2 linked regions of the Homo sapiens genome follow. The protein of the gene in region 1 purifies or fractionates together with the protein of each later gene. This does not show direct contact. Each region holds a gene or a part of one and is shown on either strand. Other genes may lie near its edges.

Region 1 (4,259 bases):
ATGTAGTGATTTAAACTCTGATGCCTATATTGTGTAGGGACATCATGTTTTGTTTGTTCCATTACAGAATCTTAAAAAGCAAATGTTTTATTTTGACTGTCCTTTAGAAGAGAAGTAGATGAAGATTTATGGTTTCACTGAAAGGCACACAAATAACACTTTCATTAGGGAGTCTCAGGGGATAATGTGGCTTAAAGGGGGTGTCTCTGGTGGTTCTTTAAGGTAAGAGAGGCTTCCTGAAGTCAGGCATGGGCTCCTCTATTCTGGAACCCTCTGCCTGTGCAGCAGGACTGAGAATTTGCCCAGTCTCTGGTGTAAGCAGAAGCTAAAAGCATCAGATCCACGGGGTTTTCTGCTACTGACAGTCAGCCCTCTGACCTAAAGACAACAGTTAAGGTTTACTGAACTCCTACTATGTGCCATAAACTATGGTAAGGGCTTAACATTTACTTACATACTTTATCTCATGTAACCCTCATAATAGTCCCCTGATGCAGATACTGTTTATGGCTTATTTTACAAATGAGAAAACTGGAGCTCAGGGAAGTTAAGTAATTTGGCCAAGATCACACAGTGATCATCAGCATCACCGGAGTTAGAGCCCAGATCTAATTACAAAATCATGCTGGTACCAGTGAACTAAATTGCTAGCTCCCCGCTGCACCCCAGGCTCATGTTTTACTGGGAGCCTATGTAATGTGTCTTATCAGTCTGTCCCCTGAAGGGCTGAAGATCATCTCAGACAAACAGATGGGATTTTACTGAGGAGCCAATAACAAATCGCTCACAGTACACACTGCTCTAGCTTGCGTCTGTGTGACTGAAGCCTTGCTGCAATGGAGACACTAGCCTCATCACTCCTTTCATTCAATCAACATTTATTGAGTGTACACTTTGTGCCTGGCACTGTGCGAGGTGCTGGGAATACAGGAACAAAAGCTACTTCCTAACCCACAGGAGCACACAGCATATGTTTCCGGATTCAAATGTTCAAAGTGAAAACCACGTATCAACACGGGGAGTAGTCCCCCTGCAAAGAGAAAGCCAAATTGTGGGCTGTGGGTGCGAACTGCTGCCACAGTGCCGGGGGTAAAATATTTTGGTTTGGGAACCTCCTCCCAGAACTTCTGGAATGTTCTTGTTTTCCCAACTTGTTTTACAGCTGCGCAGGGAGCCAGATAGCATTCATTAATTCCCAACACTGGCCAGCATATAGGGCAAGGGGCCACAGACAGATAGAACTATATGATTAGTGCTAAATGAGAAAGAGCACATACAGATTATCCAGAAAGCTCCAGTGAGTCTTCATTTTCTATTTCTTCTCTCATCACTTTCATAAAGGAATTCTCAATGAGCAACAAGTTATAAGAGTTCCACATCTTCTCCCTTTTCCTGTCATTATTTGGCTATTGCTGATAATAGAGAAACTCTAATTAGACTGGTCCAGCAGCACATTAGGAGGGTTCAAAAGCCAGACCTGCTTGCAAGAAGGTATTCAGAGAGGCTGAGGCAGGGATACCCCCGGGAAGGGGGCTGGGCCAGCCACGCTTTTGCGATTCCTCAAAGCTGGCTCCAAATTGGGCAGCAGAGGAGGGGCAAATGAGCCCCCAGGAACTTATCCAACCTGGCCACCGGCATAACATAAGCTGGAGTTGAATTTCCTGACAACCCCCACTTTCCATGTTGGATTGTCAAGGGAAACATAACACCTTAAGCGAGTTTCCTGTATGGTCCAGCCTGGCCACACATCCGAAGTCTGCGGGTGAGTGCCAGAGACCGTCAGAGCTGGAAGGAGGCCCGCGGGCCTATCTGGTTCTCCTGCCTTCAGGAAGTGTCCTTCTCTTCTCATTTGCAGGAAGGCGAAGGGTGGGAGGGCCTTCTGTTCCCCGCGACCAAGGACAGAGCCCACGCAGCCCTAACCCAAGCAGCTCAATTCAGCTTCCCACCTCTTTTGCCGCCCCGCCCCCATCCTGAAACCAACTTTACATTCTTTAAATTAGTTTCGCAAGCCAGGATGCCAGAGTAGAGGAGGTTCCCAGTCTCCTCTGTCCCGTTTGGTCAAGCTGTTGGCACCCGCAAAAAGGATCTGAGAAAAGGGCACGGATGTTCTCCCCCCGACATGCAGAACAACTGAAAGAAGCCAGAAGCCAGAGCACTTTACCTCCTCTGAGGTCCAAATCCGAGGCTGCAGTGACACAACAGGAGGAAGGAAGCAGAGAGTCATTCCCCGGAGTCAGGTGGGGCTCGTCCCACACTAACTGGAGTTCTTTCCCGATCTCTAAGCGCTCTCATACCGGGCGCTCGACCCAGCCATCCAACCCCGCAGAAGAGACGAGGAGTAACAGGCAGGGTTCCCACGGCACCGGGGATCCAGCATCCCTACCCCGCTGTCTCTGCGGCCGCCTCCCGGAGCGGGCGGTAGGCGGGGGCCAGCTGGCAAGCCTGCCCCGCGGGGGTGGTCCCAAGGACTGATTCGATGCGTGTAAAGGAGCGGGCCGAAGGGGCACCCACTGGGGCAGGTTTGCCCACTGCCCCACCTCTCCTACATTCTCCAACCCACCCCCATAACTCTGGACTGGGAACGGGCTTCGAGCGTTCCAGGACGCGCAGGGAACTGCGCAGCTCCGGGAACTGGCGTGGGTCTCAGACGCCGTGCGACTGCCCCCAGAACGCAAGAGACTCCGAAGGGCTGCGTCTGGGAGTGGGGCATGGGACGGCCTTCTAGTCCCATACGTGGCGACCCAGAAGAGGGTCAGCAGCAGCTGGGGTGCAGTGAGCCCACCCCGGCACCAGCCCCCGCCCCAGCGCGCGCACTCACCACTCAGCAGGCGACCCGTCGCGGCCCGCAGCCCCACCAGCAGCACGGCCAGCAGCACGGCCTGTAGCGCGGTTCCCGGCCTCATGGCCCGACTCGGGTGCGCCCCCCGACACTCGGGCGCTACGGCGGTGGAGCGGGCTGGCGGGCAGAGGCGTGCGCGACAACTGCAACCGCGGCAGCAGCATCTCTAGGCCACCGACGGACCGCACGGGAGGCGGGGGGGAGGGCGCGGAGTCAGTCGGTCGCCCCTCCGCCCCCTGGGACGTCACTGCGAGGAGGGCAGCCCCGCTGGCTGGCCCGCCCCCGACAGCCTCCTCCAGCGAGGTTGGCGCCAGACACTCGGCCAGCCAGAGAGGGGCGAGTCGCAGAGGGGAACCAGCTCCCTGTCCCCCTCCGAGCTTCCCTGGGAGATCCCGCGTTTGCCCGAGGCGCTGGGCGGAGGAATACTTCAGTCGGGCCCCTAGGCAATCTGATAACGAGCACAGTGTGCCTAAAACTAGCACCACATCTCACCCCTCCTCTCCCGCTGACCTTAGCCAAGTTCGCCAGCTGTGCGGGTGCACCTGGAGAGAGAGGCGATGCGTGGACTCCTACCTGGGGCTCAGCAGGCCGCAGTCCCAGCACGAAGGGCGACGCCTGAGCAGGGAATGGTCGATGCAGAGAACAAACACTCACGCAGGCAGTGTGCCCACCGGCCAGGAAAGTTATGGGACACCGCGCGGATGGCATCCAAAGAACTTGGCTGAGTTGGAGCCCTCCCGACTGAAAGGAAAGCGGCTTCTACCAGAAGCCAAAAGATGTCCCAGATCCCTGGAAGGAAATGATTCTGTTTTTTGCAGGGAACAGGTTGGGAGGTGGGGGTCATAGTTAGGGAGTTCAGCTTTGGCCCCTCGCCCCGCAGGAAAGAATGAAACTATTATCTCAGGAAAAGCTTTCCTAACCTAGCCCTCAATGTGTGCTTCCTCTTGTAAACTCCCAAAGTAGGTGTGTTTCACTTTGGTTTCGTAAACAAAATGCTTTTAAATATAGTCAAGCAATAGAGTGAGCCATCTGTCCAAAGATTAAGGCACTAAGTAGCAGAAGGTGAATCTGACTTTCTGCCTTTTCTGCCACACCATGCTGCTGTGAAGCATAGCAGAAGCCCCATCTGGGCCACGACCTCTGGATTTTGGTTCCAGCTTGCTGCTTCTTACGTACTCTTTCTGCTTTTCAAAACAGCCAAGAAAGCAGTGATGCTTCTAAGGCCTCTAGCCACTGCAATTCTAAACAAACAGCCTGAATACAGGCTGGGGGTGAGAGGGGAGTGGGATGAATTTCAGTATCAGCTGAGACTATGGGGGAGCTCTGCTGCGGCACGTAACAGCTAACAGCGGTTGTGGCAGGATGAGGCCTGACCTTTATGGCAAGATCATTTATAGACCTTCCTTCTGTCCCAGTTAGA
Region 2 (3,811 bases), on another chromosome or scaffold:
GAAAAGTGGAACCCTGGCCAGGCGTTAACGTGAGTTAACATGAACATACATTCCTGGCCAGGCATGGTGGTGCACGCCTGTAATCCCAGCACTTTGGGAGGCTGAGGCAGGTGGATCACCTGAGGTCAGGAGTTTGAGACCAGCCTGGCCAACATGGTGAAGCCCTGTCTCTATTAAAAATACAAAAATTAGCACGATGTGGTGGTACGCGCCTGTAGTCCCAGCTACTCAGGAGGTTGAGGAAGGAGAATTGCTTGAGCCTGGGAGGCAGAGGTTGCAGTGAGCCAAGATTTGTGCCATTGCACTCCAGCCTGGGCAACAAGAGCAAAACTCCGTCTCAAAAAAAAAAAATGCCGGGCGCGGTGGCTGTAATCCCAGCACTTTGGGAGGCTGAGATGGGCGGATCACAAGATGGGCGGATCACGAGGTCAGATCAAGACCATCCTGGCTAAACGGTGAAACCCCATCTCTACTAAAAATACAAAAAATTAGCTGGGCATGGTGGTGGCGCCTGTAGTCCCAGCTACTCAGGAGGCTGAGGCAGGAGTATGGTGTGAACCTGGGAGGCGGAGCTTGCAGTGAGCCAAGATCGTGACACTGCACTCCAGCCTGGGTGACAGAGCGAGACTGTCTCAAAAAAAAAAACAAAAAAAAAAAACTGGAACCCTGTCTCAAAAAAAAAATACAGATTTCTCCTAGTTGCCAAGCCTACAGCAAGATAACATTTTTTGGTACAGCATTTCCCAGTAAGCAGTGTCACTGCTTTATTTATAAGCCTTTTAAATTCAAAATAGATAAGTAAACCCAACACCAACTCTGTGGCTGAAATACCGCTTTTTATAAATTACAAGTTTCTTACAACTAAGTTCCCTTATGGGCATACTCACTTTTTCAGAAAAAAATACCTACCAGGCAGTGAGATGCTTCATCTTAATGTCTTAAACCGACTTTTTAAGCTGTGGGTAGGCACTTAGAAGAATGGGTTTTTCTTTCCCCCAAGCTGCCGCTTGATTCTTTTTTATGTTTTCTATAGACTAATGACCCCAGTGGTGGCTGCATTTCCAAATCTTTATGTCTTTGTTTTTCTGAGATTGTTGAGCCACTCATCCAGGAGGCAGGGAAACCATTAATGGCTGGCTTCTGGACACATCTGTTATGAAGTGTGAAGCAGAGTTAACTCAGGAAGTTCCCAAAGAACTGAATTTTGGCCCATAGAGAGTTTATGAAATGAACAGAGAAACAAGATGTCTCTTCCCAGTCTTAGGTATCTGTGGGCATCCATTTTAATACCTGGTTTCTTCAGAATTAGCCTGTGACACTTTTCTGTATTTCTGAAATATTTTTCTAACATGTGCTTCTCTCTAAAAGACCTGGTTTGTAGTAACTGTATGTGTTTTTTGTTTGTCTGTTTTTGAGATGGAATCTCGCTCTCGCCATGCTGGAGTGCAGTGGTGCGATCTTGGCTCACTGCAACCTCTGCCTCCCGGGTTCAAGCGATTCTCCTGCCTCAGCCTCCCGAGTAGCTGGGATTACAGGCACGTGCCACTACGTCCAGCTAATTTTTTGTATTTTTAGTAGAGTCGGGTTTTCACCATGTTGGCCAGGTTGGTCTCGATCTCTTGACCTCGTGATCTGCCCTCCTCGGCCTCCTAAAGTGTTGGGATTACAGGCGTGAGGCACCATGCCCAGTGTGTACTAACTGTTTTAAATTAAGCAAGTGATAAAGAATTTGCTGGTTTTAAGCCACCACAAAAGATGGTTTAAAACAATTTAGCAATAAAATTTGGACAAAAAATAATTGATTTGGTCTTAATTTATATCAGAAGTGACTTCTAAGTCTGTAGTTGGCTTCACAATATGCAGATTATTAGCATAGCAGAGAGAGCAGGGGACACCATAGTCATTGCTTCATAGTGAGCAGCAATTCTATCTTGAGTATGATAAGGCCTAGAAGGTTTTTTTGAAATACTTTTCATTTTCGGCCCCAATTAGACTTTGGTACTTCATATAGAATATTTTGAGACTTCTAAGTTAGAGTAACGTACCCAGTTTCAAAATTTCTAGGGGTTACTCTTTGATTTTGGTAGATTTCACTCTTTCTCCTTTTATTTTCCATTTTTTTATAGTTAACGTTGATTTTGGATTAGAATAATAAATGAGGCAGCATTTTATTACATTTGGATTAGTTGACTTGCCATTTACAGATGATATTGGTATTACAGAGTAACAGCCTTTGTTAATTAGAAAACTGGATTTGCATATATTAAATTTTAATTCCTGGTGCTTTGTCTTTTGTTTTTGCTGTTTTGGGTTTTAGAACTACTTTATATCCTGCGAAATTGTGTTAGATTTGGATTATTAAATTGATAAATTTTTACCATATTATGGGAAGCATTTCTGATCTCATTAGAAACCATACATATTCTCAGCTGCCCAGGTTTTACTGATTTTATTTTCTCATTAAAGACAAACTTCTGTTTTAAGGAACTTGGGAAAGTTGATATGAATTTCTAATTTAATGTATTAGGTCATTAAAATAATTTTTGAGTTCCCTTAGACACATACAGGCTTTTCATTTTTTTCAAAAGTACCCTCCTTAAAGTCTGTAACAGTTAACATTTTTGAGTACCTTTGCCCAGGTACGTTGCAGGCAGGGGTGGAGTGGGGGCATGCATTGGTCGAGTCACATATCATTACTGTATTTAGTTTGGGGAGTATACAGAAACTTAAGGTTTTTTTGTTTTTGTTTTTGTTTTTGTTTTTGTTTTAAAGAATACCGTAGCAGTAGGCAGGACAGTTCCAATTCAACAAAAACCTCTTTACCCTGGCACTCAAAACTGTAATGATGATGAACTGGTAAGCATTTTTCTGTTTTCAGATGTTCAACATCAAAATGAGAAAAGCACTAACACTTGATTTAAAAATAATTGATTGCTAGTATTTCTCTAATTTTCATCTTGAAGTTCATTACTGAACTGTTGTTAAGTCTTATCAGAATTATGCCAGATTAGACTCATAGTCAAAATGTCCTGTTAAAAACTGGGAAAATCAGAGAGTACTTATTTTGCCTGCCTGCTTTAAGTATTCAAAATATAGTAGATATGTGCTCGGCTCAGTGGCTCACGCCTATAATCCCAGCACTTTGGGGTGCCAAGGCAGGAGGATGGCTTGAGTCCAGGAGTTTGTGAGCAGCCTTGGCAACATAGTGAGACCTAGTCTCTACAAAAAAATTTTAAAAATTAGTTGGGCATAGTGGCGCACTCCTGGAGTCCCTTCCTCTTGAGAAGCTGAGGTGAGAGGATCACTTGAGCCCAGAAGGTTGAGGCTATGGTGAATCGTGAGTGCACTGCAGTCAATGAACCATGAGTGCACTGCACTCCAGCCTGCGCGACAGAGTAAGACTCTGTCTTAAGAAAAGGAAGGAAGGATGGATGGATGGATATATCAAGCCATATGCACATGAAAGCAGGTGTGTGTCTGTGTGTGTACACACTAGATGAGGATATCTATGCACCTTTTTTGTCAGATGGGTAGGTTTTATGATCCTATCATCAGTGGAATTAGTAAATATTACAAGTTGTACGTGTTTTGACTTTGACTTAAATTTTTTTTTCCAATAGAAACTATGTTCCAACTTCCTGTCAACAATCTTGGCAGTTTAAGAAAAGCCCGGAAAACTGTGAAAAAAATACTTAGTGACATTGGGTTGGAATACTGTAAAGAACATATAGAAGTAAGTAGCATGTCATTTTTAAATTTTAACATGACTCAGCTTCTGATCCATTACTTTGTGTCAGTGGCCAAGATGGCT

Evidence for each region.
Region 2: the proteins of LAYN (region 1) and ADNP purify together in Homo sapiens (affinity purification with western blotting, with the first as the bait; one study listed by BioGRID). This does not show direct contact.

Annotation. Positions count from the first base shown.
Region 1 is NC_000011.10:111,539,488-111,543,746, reverse strand, and holds the start of LAYN (layilin isoform 2 precursor), read right to left. Parts: upstream 3,028-4,259; 5' UTR 2,904-3,027; coding exon 2,819-2,903; intron 2,414-2,818; exon of another isoform or gene 2,186-2,413; coding exon of another isoform or gene 2,162-2,185; intron 1-2,161. UniProt on the Homo sapiens protein: Receptor for hyaluronate.
Region 2 is NC_000020.11:50,903,811-50,907,621, reverse strand, and holds part of ADNP (activity-dependent neuroprotector homeobox protein), read left to right. Parts: intron 1-2,772; 5' UTR 2,773-2,856; intron 2,857-3,620; coding exon of another isoform or gene 3,621-3,625; coding exon 3,626-3,733; intron 3,734-3,811.